3 separate regions of the Homo sapiens genome follow, and regions 1 and 3 are each linked to region 2. Evidence: fine-mapped expression QTL. A gene starts in region 2. Each other region holds a variant in brackets. All regions are shown on one strand. Distances are from middle to middle.

Evidence for each region.
Region 1: its variant is fine-mapped to the expression of IL27RA in whole blood (TOPMed, PIP above 0.99).
Region 3: its variant is fine-mapped to the expression of IL27RA in whole blood (TOPMed, PIP above 0.99).

Annotation. Positions count from the first base shown.
Region 1 is chr19:14,049,956-14,056,163 of GRCh38, forward strand. It overlaps IL27RA (interleukin 27 receptor subunit alpha), which reads left to right. Exons shown (of 14, transcript NM_004843.4): 11 at 803-928; 12 at 1,652-1,745; 13 at 1,925-2,018; 14 at 2,141-3,263. The coding sequence ends at 2,335. PALM3 (paralemmin 3) reads right to left here. Exons shown (of 7, transcript NM_001145028.2): 6 at 5,425-5,470; 7 at 3,412-5,271. The coding sequence ends at 3,650. Among named protein-coding and RNA genes, the nearest start is that of PALM3, 9.0 kb to the right of the region's middle. RefSeq lists an enhancer at 6,145-6,208. The variant T/A (reference allele first, on the strand shown) is at 2,708.
Region 2 is chr19:14,028,525-14,033,858 of GRCh38, forward strand. IL27RA (interleukin 27 receptor subunit alpha) reads left to right here and starts at 3,238. Exons shown (of 14, transcript NM_004843.4): 1 at 3,238-3,448; 2 at 3,862-3,979. The coding sequence starts at 3,349. RLN3 (relaxin 3) reads left to right here. Exons shown (of 2, transcript NM_080864.4): 2 at 2,186-3,027. The coding sequence ends at 2,424. RefSeq lists an enhancer at 401-450 and silencers at 3,017-3,146, 3,217-3,266, 3,277-3,396, 3,407-3,456.
Region 3 is chr19:13,984,757-13,989,756 of GRCh38, forward strand. All of the region lies in intron 2 of RFX1 (regulatory factor X1), which reads right to left. Among named protein-coding and RNA genes, the nearest start is that of RFX1, 19 kb to the right of the region's middle. RefSeq lists enhancers at 485-1,376, 1,403-1,452, 2,268-3,158. The variant C/T (reference allele first, on the strand shown) is at 1,882.

The sequences.
Region 1 (6,208 bases), 22 kb after region 2:
AGGCAGGCAGATCACTTGAGGTCAGGAGTTCGAGACCAGCCTGGCCAACATGGTGAAACCTCATCTCTACTAAAAATACAAAAATTAGCCAGGCATGGTGGCACAGCCTGTAGTCCAGCTACTCAGAAGGTGGCTGAGGCACTAGAATTGCTTGAATCCGGGAGGTGGAGGTTGCAGTGAGCCAAGATCATGCAAAGACAAACTAAATAATATCTAAGCAGTGTATGAGATGGTGATAAGTGCTGAGTAGAGAATGAAGCAAGGGGCTGGGCAAGGTGGCTCACACCTATAATCCCAGCACTTTTGGAGGCCGAGGTGGGCAGATCACCTGAGGTCAGGAGTTTGAGACCAGTCTGACCAATATGGTGAAACCCAGTCTCTACTAAAAATATAAAAATTAGCCAGATGTGGTGGCGGGCACCTGTAGTCCCAGCTACTCAGGAGGCTAAGACAGCAGAATTGCTTGAACCCAGGAGGCAGAGGTTGCAGTGAGCTGAGATCACATGACTGCACTCCATCCTGGGCAACAGAGTGTTACAGAGCGAGACTTCATGTCAAAAAAAAAAAAAAAAAAAGAGAATCAAACAAGGAAGGTGGGTGGTGAAGGGGGTGCAATTTCAAATAGAGCGGGGTCAAGGAAAGCCTCACGGAAGAGGTGACCTTTGAGCAAAGACCTAAAAGAGATGAGGAGGGAGCCATGTGGATACCTGGGAGAGAGTGTTGCAGACAGCAGGAAGAGCACATGCAAAGGCCCTGTGGTAGGCTTGACCACCTCCCCAACTTCTTTGGTTGTGTTCTCCAGTGAGTGGCAACACACAGAGTGTCACCCTGCCTGACCTTCCTTGGGGTCCCTGTGAGCTGTGGGTGACAGCATCTACCATCGCTGGACAGGGCCCTCCTGGTCCCATCCTCCGGCTTCATCTACCAGGTAGGGGGGTTGGGATGGGATTGCCACAGGGAGGGGATGTACTCCACAGTGGGGAGAGGTAGCATCTGGAGTCATTACTTGGAAGCTAGGTGCAGTGGCTCACCCCTGTAATCCTAACACTCTGGGAGGCTGAGGCAGGTGGATCACTTGAGCCCAGGAGCTCGAGACCAGCCTGGGCAACATAGTGAGACCCCCTTCTCTACAAAAAATAAAACAATTAGCTGGATGTGGTAGCATGCGCCTGCGGTCCCAGCTCCTGGAGAAGCTGAGGCTCGAGGATCGCTTGAGCCCAGGAGTTGGAGGCTGCAGTACACGGATTACACCACTGCGCTCCAGCCTGGGCAACAAAGCAAGACCCTGTCTTTAAAAAATTAAGAATTGCCAGGCACAGTGGCTCACGCCTGTAATCTCAGCACTTTGGGAGGCCGAGGCGGGTGGATCAGTTGAGGTCAGGAGTTCGAGACCAGCCTGGCCAATGTGGTGAAACCCCATCTCTACTAAAAATACAAAAATTAGCTGGGCGTGGTGGCGTGCGGCTGTAATCCCAGCTACTTGGGAGGCTGAGAGAGAATTGCTTGAACCCAGGAGGCGGAGGTTGCAGTGAGCTGAGGTCGCACCACTGCACTCCAGCCTGGGTGACAGGGCAAGACTCTGTCTCAAAAATAAAAATAAAAAATAAAATAAAATAAAAAATTAAGAATGATCTCTTCCCTACCCTACCAGATAACACCCTGAGGTGGAAAGTTCTGCCGGGCATCCTATTCTTGTGGGGCTTGTTCCTGTTGGGGTGTGGCCTGAGCCTGGCCACCTCTGGAAGGTGAGGCTGTCGGATACATGCATCTCTACCCACGTGGGGAAGGCAGCTGGGCATTTTGCTGAGCTTCCAGGGGGCTTGAAGGGAGGCCTCAGGGCGCAGTCACATTCATGAACCCTGCACCCTGGGCTGGGGCATCTGGCCATCTGGATCTGCTGCCCTGACTACTCCTGTCTTGCCAGGTGCTACCACCTAAGGCACAAAGTGCTGCCCCGCTGGGTCTGGGAGAAAGTTCCTGATCCTGCCAACAGCAGTTCAGGCCAGCCCCACATGGAGGTGAGTCAAAGGGCCGGCTAGTCGGAGCCCTCTGGGGGACTGGGGAGTCCTGGGGCAGTGGGGAGGGGGTGAGGTGTGGGTCGGGGAGGCTGGGGCAGGATTACAGGCTCATCTCTTCCCAGCAAGTACCTGAGGCCCAGCCCCTTGGGGACTTGCCCATCCTGGAAGTGGAGGAGATGGAGCCCCCGCCGGTTATGGAGTCCTCCCAGCCCGCCCAGGCCACCGCCCCGCTTGACTCTGGGTATGAGAAGCACTTCCTGCCCACACCTGAGGAGCTGGGCCTTCTGGGGCCCCCCAGGCCACAGGTTCTGGCCTGAACCACACGTCTGGCTGGGGGCTGCCAGCCAGGCTAGAGGGATGCTCATGCAGGTTGCACCCCAGTCCTGGATTAGCCCTCTTGATGGATGAAGACACTGAGGACTCAGAGAGGCTGAGTCACTTACCTGAGGACACCCAGCCAGGCAGAGCTGGGATTGAAGGACCCCTATAGAGAAGGGCTTGGCCCCCATGGGGAAGACACGGATGGAAGGTGGAGCAAAGGAAAATACATGAAATTGAGAGTGGCAGCTGCCTGCCAAAATCTGTTCCGCTGTAACAGAACTGAATTTGGACCCCAGCACAGTGGCTCACGCCTGTAATCCCAGCACTTTGGCAGGCCAAGGTGGAAGGATCACTTAGAGCTAGGAGTT[T/A]GAGACCAGCCTGGGCAATATAGCAAGACCCCTCACTACAAAAATAAAACATCAAAAACAAAAACAATTAGCTGGGCATGATGGCACACACCTGTAGTCCGAGCCACTTGGGAGGCTGAGGTGGGAGGATCGGTTGAGCCCAGGAGTTCGAAGCTGCAGGGACCTCTGATTGCACCACTGCACTCCAGGCTGGGTAACAGAATGAGACCTTATCTCAAAAATAAACAAACTAATAAAAAGCAAAAAAAAAAAAAAAAGAAAAGAAAAAACACTGCATTTGGGCACCATCTCAGCTCCCTTGCATCCAGGTGCAGCATGGACTGAGTTCTTGACAACAGAATGTGGTCAGAAGTGACATATGCCAACACGGGGTCTGGGTGGGGGCTCCCCCACATCCTTTCCTTGCCTATGAGCTGGAACATAACACATGCCTATGATCCAGCTTTGGTCATACCCAAGGGGAAGGTGGAGCAAGAAATGAAAAGGAACCTGAATCCCTGAATGACTGCATGGATAGAACCACTAAGAAAAATAAACTTTTATATTTTTATAGCTACTGTAGCTTTGAGGTCTTTTTGTTACAGCAGCTCAATCTATACTCTCACTGATTCATAATCTTTGACTGTAGCAGGGTTAAGCCTCAAATTTCCCACCAGGAGATGACGCTGTGATTCTGTGCTGACTACACACACATTCAAGCCGTCTTGAGTGCTTTCACATTTTATTTTCAAGTATAAAGGCTTCATCGCAGAAGGAGGCCAGGGTTACAGGCAGTGGGCAAGGGGTCTGGAAGCCCAGGTTTAGGTGGACGTGCAGGCTAGCTGGCTCCCAGGTGCCATGGCCAGTCCTGTGGTCCCTGTCTGTGCCTGGGACCCTCTTCTGGGTGCCAAGAGGCCGAGGTAGCTGTGAGAGGAGCTGGACATGGGGTGGAGGGGCATGGGTTCACATGACCGCACAACACTGGCACGTCTTTTGCTTAGGGCCACTTGCCTCTTCACCCTCGGTGGGGGCAGATGGCTCAGGCTGCCGGGCAGGCGCGTAGGTGGGCACAGGGTGGGCACTGGGGTTGGCGCTGGGCCCCTCCCCCTGAAGCAGTGGCTGGCATTCGGCGGGCTGCTCTGGGGCTGGGGTCTCTGCCAGAAGAGGTGTGGCATCCCCCAAGGGGCCTTGGCCCTCAGCAGCGGTTTGGGGCTTCACTCCTTCCTCCTCCAGGGCTCCTACTGGCTTCTCCTGGGGCTGGGGTCCTTCCTTCTCTGGCCTTGTCTCCGTGTTAGCCTCAAGGGGAGGCCCTGCCTCATTCATCTCCTCTGCCTGGGATTCACTTCCTTCCCTAGACCCTTGTTCTAGATTCAGATCTCCCTCCGTCCCTTGGGTCTTCTCTGTCTCCAATGATTCCTCACCTCCCCTTTTCTCTGCCTCCAGTGTCTCCTCCCCTCCCTTTCTCTCTGCCTCCAGTGGTTCTTTGGTTGCCTCTGGCTCTTCCTCACCTCCTTTCTTCTCTACTCCCAATGGTTCTTCTACCTCCTCCTCCTCTGCCCCTCGCTTTTCCTCATCTCCTTCCTTCTCTGCCCTCAAATGTCCCTCAACTTTTCTCTCTATGCCCAGTGGTTCCTCACCTCCTTCCCTCTCTGTTCCCAGCTTTTCTGCACTTCCTCTGCTCTCCAGCTCCAACTTCTTCTCTCCTCCTTTCCTCTCTACCACTGGTGACATCTCCGCTTCATCCCTCCCTGTCCCTGGCTTTTCCTCACTTCCTATTCCCATGGATTCTTCCGCTTTTCTCTTCTCTGCCTCCCAGGTCTCCTCGCCTCCTCCCGTCTTGGCCCCCTCGGCCCCCAGCGGGCTTTCATCTCCTCTCTCCCTCCCTGCCACCTCGGGCCCTTCCAACCCCTCCACCAGCAGCTCCTCCCACTCTTCACTGAGGGTCACTCTCTCCACCCAAATGAAGGATCCCTCCTCTCCTCCAGAGCCTCCCTGCCCATCACCCTCAGGGCTGCCCTGGGGCACATCTTCCCCTTCTATGGAAGCTGCTGCCTCTAATCTCTCCTGGAGCCTAGGCGAGCTAGTCTGCACGACCTCAGGGACCCTGCCTATCTCCCCCATGGCCTCTGCATCACTGCCACCCACCCCCTCCCAGACCACCTCCACGATGCCCCTGTCCTCCTTCACCCAGGCCGGGAGCTCCAGGCTACCAGCTCCCTTCCTGTCTCCGATGGCTTCCAGCACCACTTCCTCCACCTTAGCCTCCAGCTCGGGGCCCGTGGCCCCTGTGGCACAGTCCTCTGTGGCCCTCAGCCCTTCCCACACCACACTCACCACGCCCCCTCCTTTGGCCTCACCCACCCGCCCTTCGGATGGCACTGCCCTCTGACTTAGCCCCTGCTCTGGAGTGGGGATGGGGCTGGGGCATGGGCCATTGGCTTCTGAGGAGTCTCCTGCTGCCCCGGGGACCTGCCTCGGGCCTGGCAGAAACCCCAAGACATCCTCCCTGGGCTCAGAGGGGGACTCTGGAGGCGTGCCCACTAGTCCAGCCGGCAGGGAGGCTCTCTTGTTCAGATCAGTCTGGCCTGGGGGAGTCAGAGGTGGAGGGGAGAGGACAAAAGGGAAGACAGGGTTAAGATGGAACAAAAGGACTGCCATCCACACTCCCCTTGAGTCACCCTCTCACACCCAGGCTCTGGGGTGACCTGACCCCCAGACCTAGGGGCTCCCACACTTACCTACAGAACCTGCCTCGACAATGGACTGGGAGAGAGGACGGTGACCCTGCAGAGATGGCGGAGACAAGGTCAGGCTGGCCCTCATCCCCACCTCCAGCCTCCCTGCATGCTAGGCTCCCACCCCACCACCCCTAAATACCCTCAGTGGCTCTCTATTACCTTCAGGATCAAACTCCACATTGTACCTCTGCCTTCCTCATCTATCTTATTGCCCTATGTTCCAGGGCCTTGCACACAGTAGGTGCTTAAACAATACTGCATTCCCATAGCCAATCTGTATTAGGGGCCTACTTTGTCAGTTACTGGTTACCATGCACAAGGGACACTTAAGCCTTTTGTTTTTGGCACTTACATTCCAATCAACATAAATACAAATTAATTTTTTTTTTGAGATGGAGTCTTGCTGTGTCGCCCAGGCTGGAGTGCAGTGGCGTAATCTCGGCTCACTGCAACGTTCGCCTCCTGGTTTCAAACGATTTCCCTGTCTCAGCCTCCCTAGTAGCTGGGACTACAGGCACCTGCCAGCATGCCCAGCTAATTTTTGTTTGAGACAGAGTCTCACTCTGTTGCCCAGGCTGGAGTGCAGTGGTGTGATCTCAGCTCACTGCAACCTCTGTCTCCAGGGTTCAAGTGATTCTCCTACCTCAACCTCCCCAGTAGCTGGGACTACAGGGACACACCACCATACCGAGCTAATTTTTGTGTTTTTAGTAGAGATGGGGTTTCACCATGTTGGCCAGGCTGGTCTCCAATTCCTAACCTTAAGTGATCCGCCCACCTCGGC
Region 2 (5,334 bases):
CCTGCCCAGCCTTGAAACAAGGGCTCAGGAGTTAGCAGAGCTGCAGAGCTGGGATGGGGTGTTGCAAGCCATCCATGGGGGCTGGAAGTCTGAGGACAGGTGGGGGCGGGGAGCGTGCCATTTGCAAAGACAACACCGAAGTGTTTTCCAACCCTTTCCAGCAGGTAATGTGAAGGGTGTGGTATACACATAGCTGGGTTTGTCACCTAATGCATGACCTCTCCCCAGCAAGTTGGTTTTTCTTCCGTCTCTGAGTGTCTTTTTTTTGGAGATGTGGTCTCACTCCATTGCCCAGGCTTGAATGCAGTGGCCCAATCACTGCTCATTGCAGCCTCGACCTCCCAGGCTCAAGTGATTCTCCTGCCTCCGCCTCCAGAGTAGTTGAGACCACAGGCACCTGACACCATGCCTGGCTAGTTTTAAATTTTTTTTTTGTAGAAACAGGGGTCTCACTATGTTGCCTAGGCTGGTCTCGAACTCCTGGGCTCAAGTGATCCTCCCACCTCGGCCTCCCTAAGTGCTGAGATTAGAGTCTCTGAGTGTCTTTATCTTCAAATGGGAGACACAGTTCCTGAATCTTGCAGGATTAAGTGGTATGATTAAATCAAAACAGATTAGGGCAGAGTCTCAGCAGGGCAGCGGCACAATCTGGGATCCATCAGGAGAGTCAGAGGGAACAGAAGACCTAGCTTCATGAGGGGCAGGGACCTGGCAAATAGATATTCATGATGGTGAGAAGGAGGATAGGTATGAGCGTGGACATAGAAGACACACCACTTGGATTCAGATAGTAGCTCTACAATGTAATAGTTGTGTGTTCATGTGCTACTATTTTTTTTTTTTTTGAGACAGAATCTCATTCTGTTGCCCAGGCTGGAGTGCAGTGGTGCAATCTTGGCTCACTGTAACCTCCATCACCTGGGTTCAAGCGATTCTCGTGCCTCCAGCCTCCCAAGTAGCTGGGATTACAGATGTGTGCCACCATACCTCGCTAATCTTTTTATTTTTAGTAGAGACAGTTTCACCATGTTGGCCAGGCTGGTCTCCAACTCCTGACCTCAGGTGATCCTCCCACCTCAGCCTCCCAAAGTGCTGGGATTACAGGCATGAGCCACCGCGCCCAGCCATGCAAATTCTTTACTGAGTCCTGCCTCAGTGGTCTCCTCTGGAAAATACGGGTGATAACTGCACCCACCTCAACTGGTTATCACTGAGAAGAATAAAGAAGTTAACCTGCTAAAGCACTTAAAACGTTGTTTGACACAAAGTAAGTGATCAATAAATTATTATTATTATTATTATTATTATTATTATTATTTTTGAGACAGGGTCTTGCTCTGTTGCCCAGACTGGAGTGCAGTGGTGTGATCACAGCTCACTGCAGCTTCAACCTCTTGGGCTCAAGCAATTCTCCTGCCTCAGCCTCCTGAGTAGCTGGGACTACAGGCTTGTGCCAACATGTCTAACTTTTTATTATTTGTAGAGACAGGGTAGTGCTGTGTTGTCCAGGCTGTTCTTGAACTCCTGGTTCTGGTGATCCTCCAGCATGTGCCCCTGGAAGTGCTGGGATTACAGGTGTGAGACACCGTGCCCGGACTCAATAGTCATTTTTGAGTGCTCATCATGTTCCAGACATTGTTCTAAGTTTTTTTTTTTAATGAATATTAACTCCTTATAAAACTTGAGAAGGTTGGAGTAATTATTTTTTTCCACTTTGCAGAAAAGAACATTGAGGCTCCAAGAAGTAAATTTACTTGCTCACGATTAGAGAAGCTGGATTCATGCTCAGTCAGCCCAGCTCCCAAATGTACCAGGTCCTCAATTAATAAAGAGTAAGGAGAAATAAATGACAGGGCTGGGTGCGGTGGCTCACGCCTGTAATCCCAGCACTTTGGGTGGCTGAGGTGGGCACATCACTTGAGGTCAGGAGTTTGCGACCAGCCTGAACAACATGGTGAACCCCATCTCTATAACAATACAAAAATCAGCCAGGCCTGCTGGCAGACACCTGTAATCCCACCTACTCTGGCAGAGCCAGAATTTGAACCCAGGACTGGGTGGAATAAAAACTCTGAACTATGTCTATGACTGTTGTCACAAGATCAGAGCTAGACTGGCCAGGAGCCATGACTGTGGGTGCAGCAGCAGCTGAGCCCTGATCACTAACTCTGTTCATCTTTTGCAGGAGATACCTTCCCGGATGCAGATGCTGATGAAGACAGTCTGGCAGGCGAGCTGGATGAGGCCATGGGGTCCAGCGAGTGGCTGGCCCTGACCAAGTCACCCCAGGCCTTTTACAGGGGGCGACCCAGCTGGCAAGGAACCCCTGGGGTTCTTCGGGGCAGCCGAGATGTCCTGGCTGGCCTTTCCAGCAGCTGCTGCAAGTGGGGGTGTAGCAAAAGTGAAATCAGTAGCCTTTGCTAGTTTGAGGGCTGGGCAGCCGTGGGCACCAGGACCAATGCCCCAGTCCTGCCATCCACTCAACTAGTGTCTGGCTGGGCACCTGTCTTTCGAGCCTCACACATTCATTCATTCATCTACAAGTCACAGAGGCACTGTGGGCTCAGGCACAGTCTCCCGACACCACCTATCCAACCCTGCCCTTTGACCAGCCTATCATGACCCTGGCCCCTAAGGAAGCTGTGCCCCTGCCTGGTCAAGTGGGGACCCCCCCATCCTGACCCCTGACCTCTCCCCAGCCCTAACCATGCGTTTGCCTGGCCTACACACTCCACTGCCACAACTGGGTCCCTACTCTACCTAGGCTGGCCACACAGAGACCCCTGCCCCCTTCCCAGTCCAAACTGTGGCCATTGTCCCCTGACCAGCTAAAATCAAGCCTCTGTCTCAGTCCAGCCTTTGCACGCACGCTTCCTTTGCCCTGCTTTCCATCCCCTCTCCCTCCAACTCCCCTGCCAGAGTTCCAAGGCTGTGGACCCCAGAGAAGGTGGCAGGTGGCCCCCCTAGGAGAGCTCTGGGCACATTCGAATCTTCCCAAACTCCAATAATAAAAATTCGAAGACTTTGGCAGAGAGTGTGTGTGTGTGTGTATGGTTGTTGGGCGTAGGACAGGTTTCGGGGATGCGCGGTACGCGGTACCACCCCTCGGAGGCCCCCACCCCCAGACGCCCAGGCCGCCTCCCCACTCCCCCTCAAGCAGCCCCAGCCGGGGACTTTCCGTCGCGGGGAAGGGGCGGGGACCCTGAGCGAAAGGTGCGGAGGCGGCCTGCCGGGGTGGTTCGGCTTCCCGTTGCCGCCTCGGGCGCTGTACCCAGAGCTCGAAGAGGAGCAGCGCGGCCGCGCGGACCCGGCAAGGCTGGGCCGGACTCGGGGCTCCCGAGGGACGCCATGCGGGGAGGCAGGGGCGCCCCTTTCTGGCTGTGGCCGCTGCCCAAGCTGGCGCTGCTGCCTCTGTTGTGGGTGCTTTTCCAGCGGACGCGTCCCCAGGGTGAGTGCTGGAGGGAGCTCGTGTCCCGGGCGCTGCCGCTGCGCTCCCCGCGAAGGCGCCAGTGCTCCAGGATAAGCCACGCGTATGCAGAGCGAACGGTAGAGGTGCAGGCGCCACTCGGCTCCTCCCGGGGCAGGGACCCGGCGACACTGGGGAATGGGCGGCAGCGAGGTCGAACCGGAGCCCCGGGGCGGGGTGGGGGAGCTCTCTGGGTGGTTAACAGGATGTGGCGAGCACAGGGAAAGGGGGGGTTTGCACGGAGCCCGGGCAGGGGTGCCTAGCGCCTCCCTTCCTGCTGCTCATTTCCCTAAGCCCCCCCACCTTGCAATTGTCAGAAGTCCAAGTTCTGGGGTGTGCAGGCGGAAGGGGGGGATTCGACCCCCTTTCCTGAGACCCTCTGACTCCCTCTCCAGGCAGCGCCGGGCCACTGCAGTGCTACGGAGTTGGACCCTTGGGCGACTTGAACTGCTCGTGGGAGCCTCTTGGGGACCTGGGAGCCCCCTCCGAGTTACACCTCCAGAGCCAAAAGTAGTGAGTACAGGGAGGTGACGTGGGGAAACAGGCTTTGGAGGTGGCCGCTCAGGCCCCAGGCTGCTTTGGTTGAAAGGTTCCAGGAGTCAAGCCTGGCCAACATGGTGAAACCCTGTCTATACTAAAAATACAAAAAAAAAAAAAAAAAAAAAATTACCCAGGGGTGGTGGCGCGCGCCTGTAGTCCCTGATACTCAGGAGGCTGAGACAGGAGAATCGCTTGAACCCGGGAGGCGGAGGTTGCAGTAAGCCCAGATCTCGCCACTGCACTCCAGCCTGGGGGACAGAGGGAGACTCTGTCTCAAAAAAAAAAAAAAAAAAAAAGAAAAGAAAAGAAAAGAAAGTCCCAGGAGTCTGCCCCCCTCCCCCAATACTCCTCCACTCCTTCAATTCTAGCTTCCCTCGTTTCTTTGCTGTGTCACCCTGGGCAAGTCACTTTCCCTCTTTGAGTCTCCTTTTCATTTCTCTATTAAATAGCAATCATAGGGCCAGGAGAGGTGGTTTGCACCTGTCATCCCAGCATTTTGGGAGGCCGAGGCGGGAGGATCGCTTGAGCCCAGGAGGAGTTCAGAGTTTTAGAGAGCCCGTCACTTTTTTTTTTTTTTTTTTTTGAAACGGAGTTTCACTCTTGTTGCCCAGGCTGGAATGCAATGGTGTGGTCTCGGCTCACTGCAACCTCCACCTCCTGGGTTCAAGCGATTCTCCTGCCTCAGCCTCCAGAGTAGCTGGGATTACAGGCATGTGCCACCATGCCTGGCTAATTTTTGTATTTTTAGTAGAGGGGGGAGGTTTCACCATGTTGGCCAGGCTGGTCTTGAACTCCTGACCTCAGGTGATCCACCCGCCTCAGCCTCCCAAAGTTCTGGGATTACAGGTGTGAGCCACCGTGCCTGGCCGAGAGCCCGTCTCTTAAAAATATAAAATATAATATAAATAAAGGGAAATAGGCCAGGCGCAGTGGTTCACACCTATAATCCCAGCACTTTGAGAGGCCGAGGTGGGCAGATTACTTGAGGTCAGGAGTTCAAGACCAGCTGTAGTAATTCCAGCTACTCGGGAGGCTGAGGTGGGAGGATCACTTGAACCCAGGAGGCAGAGGTTGCGGTGAGCTAAGATCGTGCCATTGCACTCCAGCCTGGGTGACAGAGTGAGACTCTGTCTCAAAAAAATTTTAAAAAATAAAAGCTGGCGTGGTGGCTCACGCCTATAATCTCAGCACTTTGGGAGGCCGAGGCGGGCAGATCACGAGGTCAGGAGTTCGAGACCAGCCTGACCAACATGGTGAAACCCTGTCTCCACTAAAAATACAAAGATTAGCCGATGTGGTGGTGCATGCCTGTAATCCCAGTTACTCAG
Region 3 (5,000 bases), 44 kb before region 2:
CCCGGCAGGACTGAAGGGCCACGGGCAAGGAGTTATCACTGCAGACACTAGTGTTGCTTCTGGCACACTAGGTGTTATGTTAGACTCTGGACAGCCAGAGATAGAGCTTTTTTGTTTTTTTGAGACAGGGTTTCGCTCTGTCACCCAGGCTGGAGTGCAGTAGCACGATCTTGGCTCACTGCAACCTCTGTCCCCTGGGGTTCAAGCAATTATCCTGCCTCAGCCTCCCAAGTAGCTGGGACTACACGCATGCACCACCATGTCCGGCTAATTTTTGTATTTTTAATAGGGACTGGGGTCTTGCTATATTGCCCAGGCTGGTCTCGAACTCTTGGACTCAAGCAATCCACCTGCTTCCATCTCCCGAAGTGCCGGAATTACCGGCGTGAGCCACTGTGCCTGGCTGACAGTAAGAGCTTTCCGGGATTTTTTTTTTTTTTTGAGACAGGGTCTCACAGTTGCCCAGGCTGGAGTGCAGTGGCGCAATCTCTGCTCACTGAAATCTCCGCCTCCCGGTTCAAGTGATTCTCCTGCCTCAACCCACTGAGTAGCTAGGACTGCAGGCACCCGCCACCACGCCCAGCTAATTTTTGTGGTTTTAGTAGAGACGGGGTTTTGCCATGTTGGCCAGGCTGCTCTTGAACTCCTGGCTTCAAGTGATCCGCCCGCCTCGGTCTCTCAAAGTGCTGGGATTACAGGCATGAGCCACTGCACCTGGCTGACAGTAAGAGCTTTTATTACCCATTTTCAGACAAGGCAACAGAGACCAGAAGCAAGGAAGTGATCTGTCCAAGGTCAAATGCACCATCCACCGTGCAGGCCATGACGCAGGTTCCCCTCTGGGCCCACACGAACCTCATACCACATATGGAACCGGAGTCACTGGTTCTGCCTGGGCTGCGCCCCAAGGGCAGTGATGTGTGAACTTGGGTATATGGGCACAGGAAGGAAAGTAAGCTGGGGGTCTACGGGGACCCCTCAAAGTCTGAAGTATCCAGACTGGGTCTCGGCTGTCCAGGCAGGGCACAGGAGGGAGAGGGGCCTGGACAGGGCAGGAGGGCTATTCAGGGCAGATGCAAAGGCCAAGTCAAGGGCAGAGCGCAGGAGTGTGTGTTGGGGGCGGGGGTTGCCAGATGTGGGAGGTGTTGGGGGAGGCCTCCGCGTAGCCGCATGTGGGCTGTGGGGCATTTGGTCAATCCCATGCCTGCCTGACCAGCTACCTGTGCAGCCAATTCCACAGGCCCTAATCCCTGTGTTTTGCTGGAATCTTCCCTGGCATCTGCTTTAGGCTTCCCAGCCCTGAGCCATAAGGGAGGAGGCCCTTGCTGAGAGGGCCCCTCCTGGGAGAAACCCGAGACAGCCCCGAGTCATGTGACCGGCACTGCACACCTGGGTCCGTGGGGTCCAAGGACTCAGGCCCAGCCTAAGGGATGGTGTCTCACCCAGGAAGCTCAAGGTGGGCAGGGAGTGGGGGGCTGGCCCCCCACCCTCTCCAGGGCTCAGGGGCTGGTCGCTGAGCAGGACCTACAGCAGGAGGAGGCCTGGGGACCTGCTGAGACCAGGTGGCTGTCTCCAGGAAGCAGCCTTGCCCGTCTCCTGCCTCTGGGGTAGCCCTCAAGGCTGGGACCCCGCCTGCCAGCCCAGGAGGGCGCCAGGGGATGCGCCACGAGGCTAACAGGTGAGCCTGAGTGACTCATGCGGATGAGGGCTTCCTGTGCAGCCATCCCTGTCTGCCTGCGGCCGGGGCAGGGCCCCTCCACCACTGGGTCTGGCCCTCGCTGTGTTTCAGGGAGGAGAAGCCAGGAGGGGAAGTGGGGGGTGGCACTGAGTCTGCGAGCGAGCGTCTGCATCTATCTGCCGGAGATCGCCACTCTGGGCATG[C/T]GCAGGAGGCCAGGGAGGCCCCCACTGTCTCAGGAAACGGCGGCCGATTTCCTGTCTCTGAATCTGACACATTAACATCTCTGAGCAGTGGAATGACTCTGACAAGTGGGCACCCATCCTCCCCGGGCCCCGCACTTCCCCATCTAGACCTACTCAAACCTTAAATGAGCTACTTGGGGGAGCCCAGGGGAGGCCCTAGAGGCTGGACTCCTGGCATCCACCCTGGGGGCCTGGCCCCCTTCCCCATAGACAGATGGGGCCACCTGACCCTCTGCCTCCTGCCCCTGGGCTCCCTGGGATGATGTCAGTCAGGGGCTCCTGGAGGGGCCCCTGCTGCCCCCAGTGTCCTCTATCCCTTGTCTGCTCCAACCTCAGTTTCCCCATCTGTGCTTGGGAATGCTGACAAACACACTCCACTTCTCTGTCTGGACACAAGTCTTCTTGGCCCCCCTAGAACTCCAAGTGAGAGAGAAGCAGGGAAGAAGGGCCGGACTCGGCCCCTCCTTCGGGGCGGCCCCTGTTCCCTGCAGGCCGGCTCGGTTTCACCTTCCCAGGAGTGGCTGCCAGAGCCCACAGCACTCTCCTTCCGCCTTGGGTTCTGGGAGAGTCTGATGGCCTCTGAGGACAGGGATTTATGGATCTAGTATTGTTCCTGACCAGGGAAACTTGATCTTCCTTCCTACCACCTCCAAAGTCACCTTTAGGCAGGGCAGGCAGGGACCGGGGCTGGGTGAGCTGTGTCTGGTTTGGTGTCGGCTGGTGTCCAGCCCCAGGCTCCAAGTCTGGGTCCAGGCCCCTCCCTTCCTCTTCCCTGCCACCTCCCTGGGTCCCTGGTCAGCTCCGATTGCTCCTGGCTTGGGAGAAGTCCTAGGTGCCTTGTGGCAGCCTTCACTGGTGTCAGTTACTCCTGCTTCCCCGGCGCTCACGTGGCCCCGGCCACCCTTAGATGAGGAAGGACGCTAACCTGGCAGAGGGTCAGGGAGGAAGGCTGGGGAGTTACTGCAAGGGGTGGGGGAGGGGACAGCTGGCAGGGCACAAGCCAACCTCCTCTTCCTCAGAACAAATCCAGGAAGCATTGCCCAGTGACCCTTCTGGGGACAGGCTGGCACCTGCCAGAATGTGGAGTGGCAGGGAAATGAAATTCCCTGGGACCACTGTGAAAGGCGACTAAGCTACCGCCTGACCAAAGTGAGCCCCAGAGAGTTCTGTGGACAGCAGGGTTGCTACAGCCTGCCCTCATGGGTACAGAGTACCCTCCTGGGAACACTACCAAGATGGGGGAGACAGAGGCCACCTCCCCATGCCTAACAGCTACTTAGAGTCCGGCCTAGCTCTGTCTGACCCAAAGACCATGCCTTGCTCTTGACTTGCTCTTGACTTCTTGCTCTTTTTTTTTTTTTTTTTTTTGAGACAGAGTCTTGCTCTGTTACTCAGGCTGGAGCGCAATGACATGATCTCGACTCACTGCAACCTCCACCTCCCAGGTTCGAGCGATTCTCCTGCCCCAGCCTCCCCAGTAGCTGGTGCTACAGGCACACGCCAACACGCCGGGCTAATTTTTGTATTTTTATTAGAGACGGGGTTTCATCATGTTGGCCAGGCTGGTCTTGAACTCCTGACCTCAGGTGATCCGCCTGCCTCAGCCTCCCAAAGTGCGGGGACTTGGTCTTGACTTTGAAGCACCAGGGCCCCCCTGAGGGAGTGCGGGAAGAGCTGGAGAAGCCAAGGTCAAGAGTGGAAGGACTTGGGGAGTGGTGGAGCCTGGAGCTGTGTGCCCACTCCAGACCCTGGCTCTAGGGAGCCTGGACCCTGAAGCAGGTAAGACCCACACCCAGGGCGTGGATCAGGACCCATCAGACACTCTGGGCGCCAAGCAGAGCCATCCACTGGTGACATGCGAGGCCTCCTGCAAACAGTCAGCCATGCAGGAGCTGATGGGACATGATGGCTGTGCTAGGTGCTCCTCTAGGCTGTTCTGGGTCAGGCTGGTGCTCCTCAGTCATTCCACAGAGACTGAGCACTGACAGAGCCCTGCCTGCAGGTGGGCACCCCCACCATCCCATTATTGTAACTTCAAGTAGTGTTAAGTGTTAAGAAGACCAGCGGGGCGCAGTGGCTCACACCTATAATCCCAGCACTTTGGGAGGCCGAGGCAGGCAGATTACTTGAGGTAAGAAGTTTGAGACCAGCCTGGCCAACATGGCAAAACGCCATCTCTACCAAAAAATACAAAAATTACCCTGGTGTGGTGGTGCGCCCCTGTAATCCCAGCTACTCGGGAGGCTGAGGCAGGAGAATCGCTTGAACCCAGGAGGCAGAGGTTGCAGTGAACTGAGATCGCACCACTGCATCCGGCCTGGGTGACACAGCGAGACTTTGTCTCAAAAACAAACAAACAAGAAGACAGAGAGTGAGCAATGGGGGTAGGGGCAGGGAGGTGTGGAGTCAGAAAGGTAGTGTCTGAGCAGCGACCTAAGGGAGACAAGAGGCAAGCTCCCAGAGGGTCTGGGGCAGGGAGTGCTCCTGGCAGAGGGTACCGAGAGTGCAAAGGTCAGGAGGCAGGACTGAGCCTGGCGGGTTTGTGGAGCTGTAGGAAGGCAAGAGGGGCTGGACCAGGTATGTGAGGGGATGGGTGGAAGTGGGCGAGGCTGGGAGGCTGGCAGGCCAGAGTTGAAGGGGCTTGACATTTGCTAGTAGGGGCACAGGGTGTGTGGAGCATTTTTGCATTTTGTTTTTGTTTTTTTGTTTTTGAGACGGAGTTTCACTCTTGTTGCCCAGGCTGGAGTGCAATGGTGCAGTCTTGGCTCACTGCAACCTCCACCTCCTGGGTTCAAGCGATTCTCCTGCCTCAGCCTCCCAAGTAGCTGGGATTACGGCGCCCACCACCACACCCAGCTTAGAGAGAGAGAGAGAGAGACAGACAGACAGACAGACAGACAGACAGAGAGAAAGAGAGTGTGTGTCTGTGTGTGTAGCTTTTAAAGTCCTTTTTTGTCAGGTATCGGGGGAGGGGAAGGAGCCTGCTCTCCCAGAGCTGAGAAAGCCTAGGCTGGGGTTTCTCAAAGAGTGCCCATGGAACCACCTGGCTTGGAGCCATCAGGGTTGAGCTAGGATGTGAC